2 separate regions of the Homo sapiens genome follow, and region 2 is linked to region 1. A link means that fine-mapping ties the variant in region 1 to the expression of a gene that starts in the linked region. Tissue or cell type: testis. Region 1 holds a variant in brackets; the other region holds the start of a gene. All regions are shown on one strand. Distances are between the middles of the regions.

Region 1 (4,162 bases):
GTAACCAAAACAGCATGGTACTTGTACCAAAACAGAGATATAGATCAATGGAACACAACAGAGCCCTTAGAAATAATGCCGCATATCTACAACTATCTGATCTTTGACAAACCTGAGAAAAACAAGCAATGGGGAAAGGATTCCCTATTTAATAAATGGTGCTGGGAAAACTGGCTAGCCATATGGAGAAAGCTGAAACTGGATCCCTTCCTTACACCTTATACAAAAATCAATTCAAGATGGATTAAAGACTTAAACGTTAGACCTAAAACCATATAAACCCTAGAAGAAAACTTGGGAATTACCATTCAGGACATAGGCAAGGGCAAGGACTTCATGTCTAAAACAGCAAAAGCAATGGCAACAAAAGCCAAAATTGACAAATGGGATCTAATTAAACTAAAGAGCTTCTGCACAGCAAAAGAAACTACCATCAGAGTGAACAGGCAACCTACAAAATGGGAGAAAAATTTCACAACCTACTCATCTGACAAAGGGCTAATATCCAGAATCTACAATGAACTCAAACAAATTTACAAGAAAAAAACAAACAACCCCATCAAAAAGTGGGCGAAGGACATGAACAGACATTTCTCAAAAGAAGACATTTATGCAGCCAAAAAACACATGAAAAAATGCTCATCATCACTGGCCATCAGAGAAATGCAAATCCAAACCACAATGAAATACCATCTCACACCAGTTAGAATGGCAATCATTAAAAAGTCAGGAAACAACAGGTGCTGGAGAGGATGTGGAGAAATAGGAACACTTTCACACTGTTGGTGGGACTGTAAACTAGTTCAACCATTGTGGAAGTCAGTGTGGCGATTCCTCAGGGATCTAGAACTAGAAATACCATTTGACCCAGCCATCCCATTACTGGGTATATACCCAAAGGACTATAAATCATGCTGCTATAAAGACACATGCACACATATGTTTATTGCGGCATTATTCACAATAGCAAAGACTTGGAACCAACCCAAATGTCCAACAATGATAGACTGGATTAAGAAAATGTGGCACATACACACCATGGAATACTATGCAGCCATAAAAAATGATGAGTTCATGTCCTTTGTAGGGACATGGATGAAATTGGAAATCATCATTCTCAGTAAATTATCCCAAGAACAAAAAACCAAACACCGCATATTGTCACTCATAGGTGGGAATTGAACAATGAGATCACATGGACACAGGAAGGGGAATATCATACTCTGGGAACTGTTGTGGGGTGTGGGGAGGGAGGAGGGATAGCATCGGGAGATATACCCAATGCTAGATGACGAGTTAGTGGGTGCAGCGCACCAGCATGGCACATGTATACATATGTAACTAACCTGCACAATGTGCACATGTACCCTAAAACTTAAAGTATAAAAACAAAAACAAAAACAAAAAAAGTCAAATCACTCCAACCTCCGCTTCCTCTGCCATGCTTGGCCTCCCCATCGTCCATCAGTTACCCAAACCAGAAATCTGGGAACCCTCCTAAATGCCATCCTCCTCAGCCTCATGAACGATCAGTCTCCAAATTCTGTGTGTTTTGTATTTTCAGCATCTTTTTGTCTGCCTCTTCCTATCGGTGATAGATCATCCTGACTCCAAAGTCAGTGATCACACTTGTTCATTAAGCATCGGATGAGTGAATATTTAATGCTTTCCTAGTACATGCTGGGCACTGATCTGTGCTATTCCGAATCCCACCTGGATCCCACCACTGAGCCCGAAGCTGGGCTTCAGCCTACAGGGACTTCCTTCCCTGCACCAGAGTGTGTGCCTGTTCCTCTTCTCAGTCCTGAGGGCTTGAGAGAAAAGGAGTCCCTTCATGCTGGGCCAGCCCACAAGCTCCAATAGCGCAGGGTGCACCCAGCAGTGCAGAATGGCTGTGTGTGCCGAGGTGTTCCCCATCAA[A/T]CCTTGTCATGCCTGGCAGCCCCAAGTCCATTCAGAACTCAGGGTAGAAGCAGCAGCAGAGTGATCCTGTCCTGGCTGTCATGATCAGACAAGCGACAAATGTCTGCAGTCCTAGAGAAGGTGACATTCCCTCCTCCCCCACACACTTGGAGCTGATGGTAGAACACAACAATATTGATATCATAATCCCTATGCCACCAAAATGATGTCATTGGCTGTTCAGAATCCCAGCACTTAGACGTGAGAGAACTACACAGGTTTAGAGCTGGAAGGACAGGTGTGAACCACATATCTGAACAATAGCAACCGTGATTTGTCAGGTGCCATGTTAAGGACTATATTACCTCTTTAATTCTCCCAACCACCCAACAGGATAAATGCTACTATGATCTTCATTTTTCTGATGAGGAGGCAGAGGCATTTGGAGATGTAGTGGGCCGAATCATTGCCCCCTAAAAGCTATGTTCAAGTCCTAACTCCTGGGACCTGTGAATAGGGCCATATTTGAAAATAAGGTCTTTGTAAATGTAATCAAGTATCTCAAGATAAAATCATCCTGGATTTAGATTGGGCCCTAAATCCAACAACTGATGTCTTTATAAGAGAAAGGAAAGATCTGAGACACAGAGAAGACGGCCATGTGAAGACAAAGGCAGATCAGGGCAATGCGGCCACAAGCCAAGGAACGCCTGGAGCTACTGGAAGCTCAAAGAGGCAGAAAGAATCCTCCCGTGGCTTCTGAGGGCACATGGCCCTGCTGGCCCCTTGATATTGGACTTTCAGCCTCCACAACTGTGGGAAAATGAACTTCTATTGTTTCAGGCCACTCAGTTCGTAGTAATTTGTTTTGCAGACACAATAAATGAATACAAGGGGTAAGGAACTTGCCAAGGTCACCCAGTTAGCACAGCAGAGCTGGGATTAGCACCTCTTGGTTTTCTGACTCCAGGGTCCTTTCCCGTGTACTGGGCAACCGCCAGGAGTAATTGAGTTATCTGGGGATTGGTGCCCTGGTGCACCCTTCCACCCTCCTTCCTTCCCTCCCAGGACCTGGTGCTCAGCCCAGTATACAGAAGGCACTTAATAAATGTGTGGACTGGCTCTTTCACCCTGATGCCATAGGGCTTGTCTGGCTCACTGATGTTTGCAACAGAGGTGGAAACAGCTCACAGCATCTCGAGATGTCAACATCGCAGGGCTGAAGGGTCCCTTGAAACTCATCGTGTTCTCCACACCTCCTTATTAGAATTGGACACTGGGCCTGAGGAGGAAGAGTAGCTTGCCTCAACCACCCAGTAGTACCCCTGAGGTCAAGTCTAGAATTCTTGGTCCTGACTCCTAGGTTCAGGGAATTCCCATGACTGTCACAGTGATATTCAGCTGCCAATTCTGCGTGATTCTAACTCCTAATAGCGCGTGTACCCTCCCTTCCTCAGCTTTGCTCACATGCTGCTCATGTTCTGATGCTTGTTTTCCCTTCTAGTCCCCTAGGAGCAGCATAGCTTCCCAGCTGGGCCTCTGGACCCAGAGAGACCTCCAATCTGTCCTTCTCACTGCTGACCAGAGAGTCAGTTTTCTGACATGCCACAGATGATGGTATTCCCTGCTAAAAGATCTTCCCATCACGGTGGCTGTTTCATAAACTGTGTTCCTTGCAATGCCACTGGATCCATGTCCTTTCAGCTCTAAACCTGTGTAGTTCTCTCGCATCTAAGTGCTGGGATTCTGAGCAGCCAATGACATCATTTTGGTGGCATAGGGATTATGACATCAATATTGCTGTGTTCTACCATCATCCTCAGAGCCTTTCGTGTGCTGATGTGCTTTGGTGATGTTCACAGGGGCCCAACTCAGTAGCAGGCATGGCTTGGAAATGTATTTGACTTGATCCTGGAATCTTTCCTATTTTTAATTTTTGGTGGAACACAAGGTACTAGGGCTGGGGACCAGTCTGGCCCAGAGGGCAGTTCAAATCCACGGCCCAGCACTGAGGCCCCAAGCTGTCTTGTGCCGCCCTGCTTGCCCATGGCCACCCTGGCTCCATGCTGCGTGCTGTTCCTGGAACACCCTGTCTCTGTCTCTGTTCCTGACACTCTTTCCCAACTCACAGAAGGTGCAGCCCTAGGGTTTCGTCCTCCAGGAACCTACCATGTGCCAGACAAGGCTCTTCACAGGTACAGTGGACTCCTCAGAATAGGCCTCTGCTATTATCACTTCCTTACCATCTCCCTCCTGCCCAGGC
Region 2 (4,162 bases), 390 kb after region 1:
GCCAACATGCCCGGCTAATTTTTGTATTTTTAGTAGAGTCGGGGTTTCATCATGTTGGCCAGGCAGGCCTCTCCTGACCTCAGGTGATCCGTCCACCTCGGCCTCCCAAAGTACTGGGATTACAGGCATGAGCCACCGCGCCCGGCCTCATAACCTTGTATTTTAACAAGCACCGAAACAGGCAGTTAACCTTAGGCCCAATCTGCTTATAGAATAAGGAACAGGAACAGGAAAATCAAAAGGTTGGCTACACCAGAGATAACTATTTTGCCAATGAATATTTTCAAGCTGGGGATAAATGACAGAGACGGTTTTCAATATAAGGGTGGCAAATTTCCTCTGTAAATAAAAGAGAAAGATGCTAGGAAAATTAGCAAAAGCATGACCTTTGACCCAGGCTAGAACCACAAGCCCGTGCAATTGAGGGTGATGCTGCATAGTGTTCAAACTCTTACTGGGACATGCAAGAGCCTCCATTACCTCTGTGCCCACCTCTCCTCTGTCCACAACTGGCTCCTTACCTGCTCACCTGCACATGCTCCAGACTAAAGATCAGGAAAAGCTGGGGCCTCTCTGTGCCCCCAAGACCCTGCACTGGTTTCTCAATGCCCTTATCACCATGGACGGTCATTCAGGGCCATTAGACTAGGAACTCCTTTAAGGAAGGCTCTCGTGGGCCTGACACAGCAGGTGCTCACTTAACCTTGACTGTGTTCATCTATCTTTTTGAGAAGGGCTGTCCAGGCAGGCATCTGAGTAGCACTCACAGCCTTGGGAGTTCTAGAAGCCATCCATGATGTACGCACACAGCCAGTGCCCTGGGTAATGATGACAGGCACAGCTTTCAAAGCAGACTGTCCTGCCTCAAGCCCAGCTCTACTTCTTACCAGCAGTAACCAGGACAGACCCCTTTCTAAGGTAGCCACCTCAAGGGGCATGAAAAGGATGGAGTGAACACTATGTGCTAGCATGGCTGGAACATAGTAAGTGCTCAGTATGTCTCAGCTCTTACCTGGGGCACAGTGGAGACTGGCGAGTCAGCACAGTAGGAAACCAGCTTTGAGAGGCAGAGGGCTCTTAACATAAAAAACGGCACAGCTCGGTACTGCTTGCATTTATAAGGCACTTTTCACGTGGATTACTAGTGGTTAAGCTTCAAACAACCCTATAAAGTAGCTAGTGGTATCATAACTCACATTTCATTGATGAAGGGACTAATGTTTCAGAGAGGTGAAGTAAGTTTTCCAGGGACACGCTGCACTGGAAAGAGGGTTCTGCTAGTCCAAATAGGGAGCTCTATCGACCTGAACCGCAAGGATCCAGCCAGGAAGTTGAGATGCGGTTGGACAGCCTACACCACTTCTGCGCCAGGGGGAGGCTGCCCAGAACAGGACGCCCTCCTAGGAACCACAGAGTTTAGCAAAGAAAAGTTTCCCTCTGTCCTGGGTGATTGAGGAGAGCTGCATCCAACAGGCCCTTGCACGAGACCAAATGCGTCGTGGGCACGCGCACACACACACAGACACACGGTGCAACCCGCCCTTCCAGGCCACCTCCGTCAGCCTCAGGCTCTCAAGGAAACCTCGGTTTCCTGGGGAGCCCGAGCCTAGAACCATCCCGACTGGCCTCCGAAGTCAACTCCTCCCTTCCACACCCCCAAGTGCAGGTTTCGGGTTCAACTCTCTGAAGCCGCCTCCCCAGTCCCGCGCTAGGCACCGTCCCGACTACTAAACGGCACTGGGTACCTAGGAGTTGCCTCAGCAGAAGCGCCGCGCCTGGCACGGGTCGGGCACACACTGCATTCGCTGGGCGAAGTGGCCATGCCTGGGTCCCCGCGCCGGGCAGCATGCGGTGCCCCGCAGGGCTCGGCCGAGGGTGGTGGAGGAAGGGGATGCCCCGCGAAGCGGGAATTCGCACCTCTCGCTCTCTTACCTTCCTCATTCTCGTCAAACACGGGGGGCTTGTGGGAGTGGTTCCCGCCCATATTCCGCCGTTGCTGCCGCTGCTACATGCCCGGCCGCTGGGATGCCGGATGCGGGATGTGGGACGCGCGCAGAGATGCGGGATGCCGGGGGCGCGCCCAGTCCGGGTTGTAGCCGCGCGCGGAGCCCGAGGGGGCCGAGCACCGTGCAGGGGCGGGGACGGCGTCCCCCTTCTCCTGGACGCCCTTCCGACTGCGCTCGCAGGGACCCCGCTCTCGCCGCGCCTTCCGCCGTGCCCCGCCTCGGGCTGCGCTCGCAGCTCCTTACTCCAGTGCCCGCCCGGGAACCCGGGAGCTCCTCGCGCCGGGGCCAACGTGCGGCGCTCCTCGCCGGCTACAGCGGGCGGGAGACGCGAGGCGGCGCGGGAGCAGGGGAAGGAGGGGAAGGAGCGGGGGAGGAGGGGACGGACGAAGGCAGCACGCAGTGGGCGGCGGCAGGGCGGAAGGAGCTGAGAAAGGGATCGGCCCGGAAGAATCTGAATCCCTGCTCGGCCCTCCTCCCTCGGCCGGGAGCTCGGTCCCTGCAGGCAGTAAGCGGTTTGTCAGCACCCACTATGGCCAGGCCTCGGCTACGCGCTTTGTTAGCACCATCCCACATCCGCCTCCGACAACCCAGCAGTAAGAAAGCATCGTTCATATTTTAGAGCGCAGTAGACGGAGGTCTAGAGGTAGAGGGGCTCTTAGGTCTGTGGTTAGTCGGCCCCGGCTGCGAAGGGAGTCCCAGGACTCCCCGCTAGCCTGTATTTGCCCATTCATATTGGGATGGGCAGTGGAGTGTCTGCTGGCTCTCCAACCGACGCTGTTCCTCTTAAGGTTTTTCTCAGTGTTTAATGAATGAAAGTATCTGTTTACTTTCTGACCCCTTAAGATTAGATACTAATCTGACCCCTTCATTGTACATGGGGAAACTGAGGCCCCAGACAGCCATAGTTTGCCCCAAACCATTCTCCCTGGGAATGGCTGGGCATGAGTCTCGGGATTCCCCCAAAATTGGGCGGCATCGGCGTCCGATTTAGGGGCGAGGCTAGCATGAGGGTCCCTGGGCTCCTGCGGCGGGAGCCTGGATCGGGAGATACGCGCCACAGTTGCGGGTGCCTAAGTAAGGGGTGCGGCAGATGCGCCCCAAGACGTGTGGGGCGAGCGCGGGTTCCCAGGACGCTCCCTGAGGGACAGGCAGGTCCCCCTGCCTTGCAGTCCTGCGGGCCCAGCTCTCCGGGACTGCAGGGAATCTTTGGCTACATCCTGCCATCTGCTGGGCGCCTGGAACCACTGTCCGTGCTTTGATAGAAAGCAGGGGTTCTTTGTGACTCTCTCCATCCTATCTCGTCCCCCAGTCCCCGTCCCCTACCTGGTCTCTCTCTCCAGTTCTCTCCCCTTCTTTCTTTTTCTTGGGAGAAGGGTGAGGGAAGCCGGGGAGACTCATACAGAAACAAAACAAAACAAAACAAAACAAAAAATCTCTTAAAGGCAGTGGGAAAGAACTGAGAAGGTCTGAGGCAGGCCCACCCACCATGACCCAGAGCTGGCTCTACCATTTACTGGCAATGTGTCCCACTTTGGAGTTCTTATCTGCAAAGTGGGCTGATTGATATTAACTCCTTGGGTTGTCTGTGAGAATTATATCAGGTAATATTTATAAAAGCAGGCAACAGTGCCCGGCATATAATAAATGATGAATAAATATTTCTTGCCTTTCATTCCACCAACAAGCATACACTGAGTAGCCAGTGTGCAGCAGGCAATGCCCTGAACACAGAGCTGGCCCCTAGCTCAAGAAGCATAGGGCGGAATGTGGACAGGCATGGGCTCTGGGCTCATTCTACCCAGGTTTCATTCTGCTTTGCCCCTCATTAGCCAGTTAACTTGGATAAATTACTTAACCTGTTCTGGACTCAGTTTCTTCATCTGAGTCCAGAAGGTGCTAATAAGAGAACTTTCCCTTTCTAACATTGTTATGAGGAATATATTGATATTGTGCTAGGCCGGGCGTGGGGGCTCACACCTGTAATCCCAGCACTTTGGGAGGCTGAGGCGGGTGGATCACCTGAAGTCAAGAGTTTGAGACTAGCCTGGCCAATATGGAGAAACCCCATCTGTACTAAAAAAACAAAACTTAGCTGGGTGTGATTGCCAGGCCTCTGAGCCCAAGCTAAGCCATCATAACCCCTGTGACCTGCACAT

Alleles and levels. Positions count from the first base shown, and alleles are read on the strand shown. Sizes are in standard deviations (SD) of each study's normalised expression.
In carriers of allele A in region 1, the expression in testis of the gene that starts at base 2,368 in region 2 tends to be higher than with T alone (moderate effect, 0.47 SD a copy in GTEx).

What was found. PIP is the estimated chance that this variant, and not a neighbour inherited with it, causes the effect.
Region 2: it holds the start of STK32B, and the variant in region 1 is fine-mapped to the expression of STK32B in testis (GTEx, PIP 0.90).

Annotation. Positions count from the first base shown.
Region 1 is chr4:5,435,840-5,440,001 of GRCh38, reverse strand. All of the region lies in intron 6 of STK32B (serine/threonine kinase 32B), which reads right to left. Among named protein-coding and RNA genes, the nearest start is that of LINC01587, 87 kb to the left of the region's middle. The variant A/T (reference allele first, on the strand shown) is at 1,921.
Region 2 is chr4:5,049,686-5,053,847 of GRCh38, reverse strand. STK32B (serine/threonine kinase 32B) reads right to left here and starts at 2,368. Exons shown (of 12, transcript NM_018401.3): 1 at 1,933-2,368. The coding sequence starts at 1,984. RefSeq lists an enhancer at 1,128-1,666.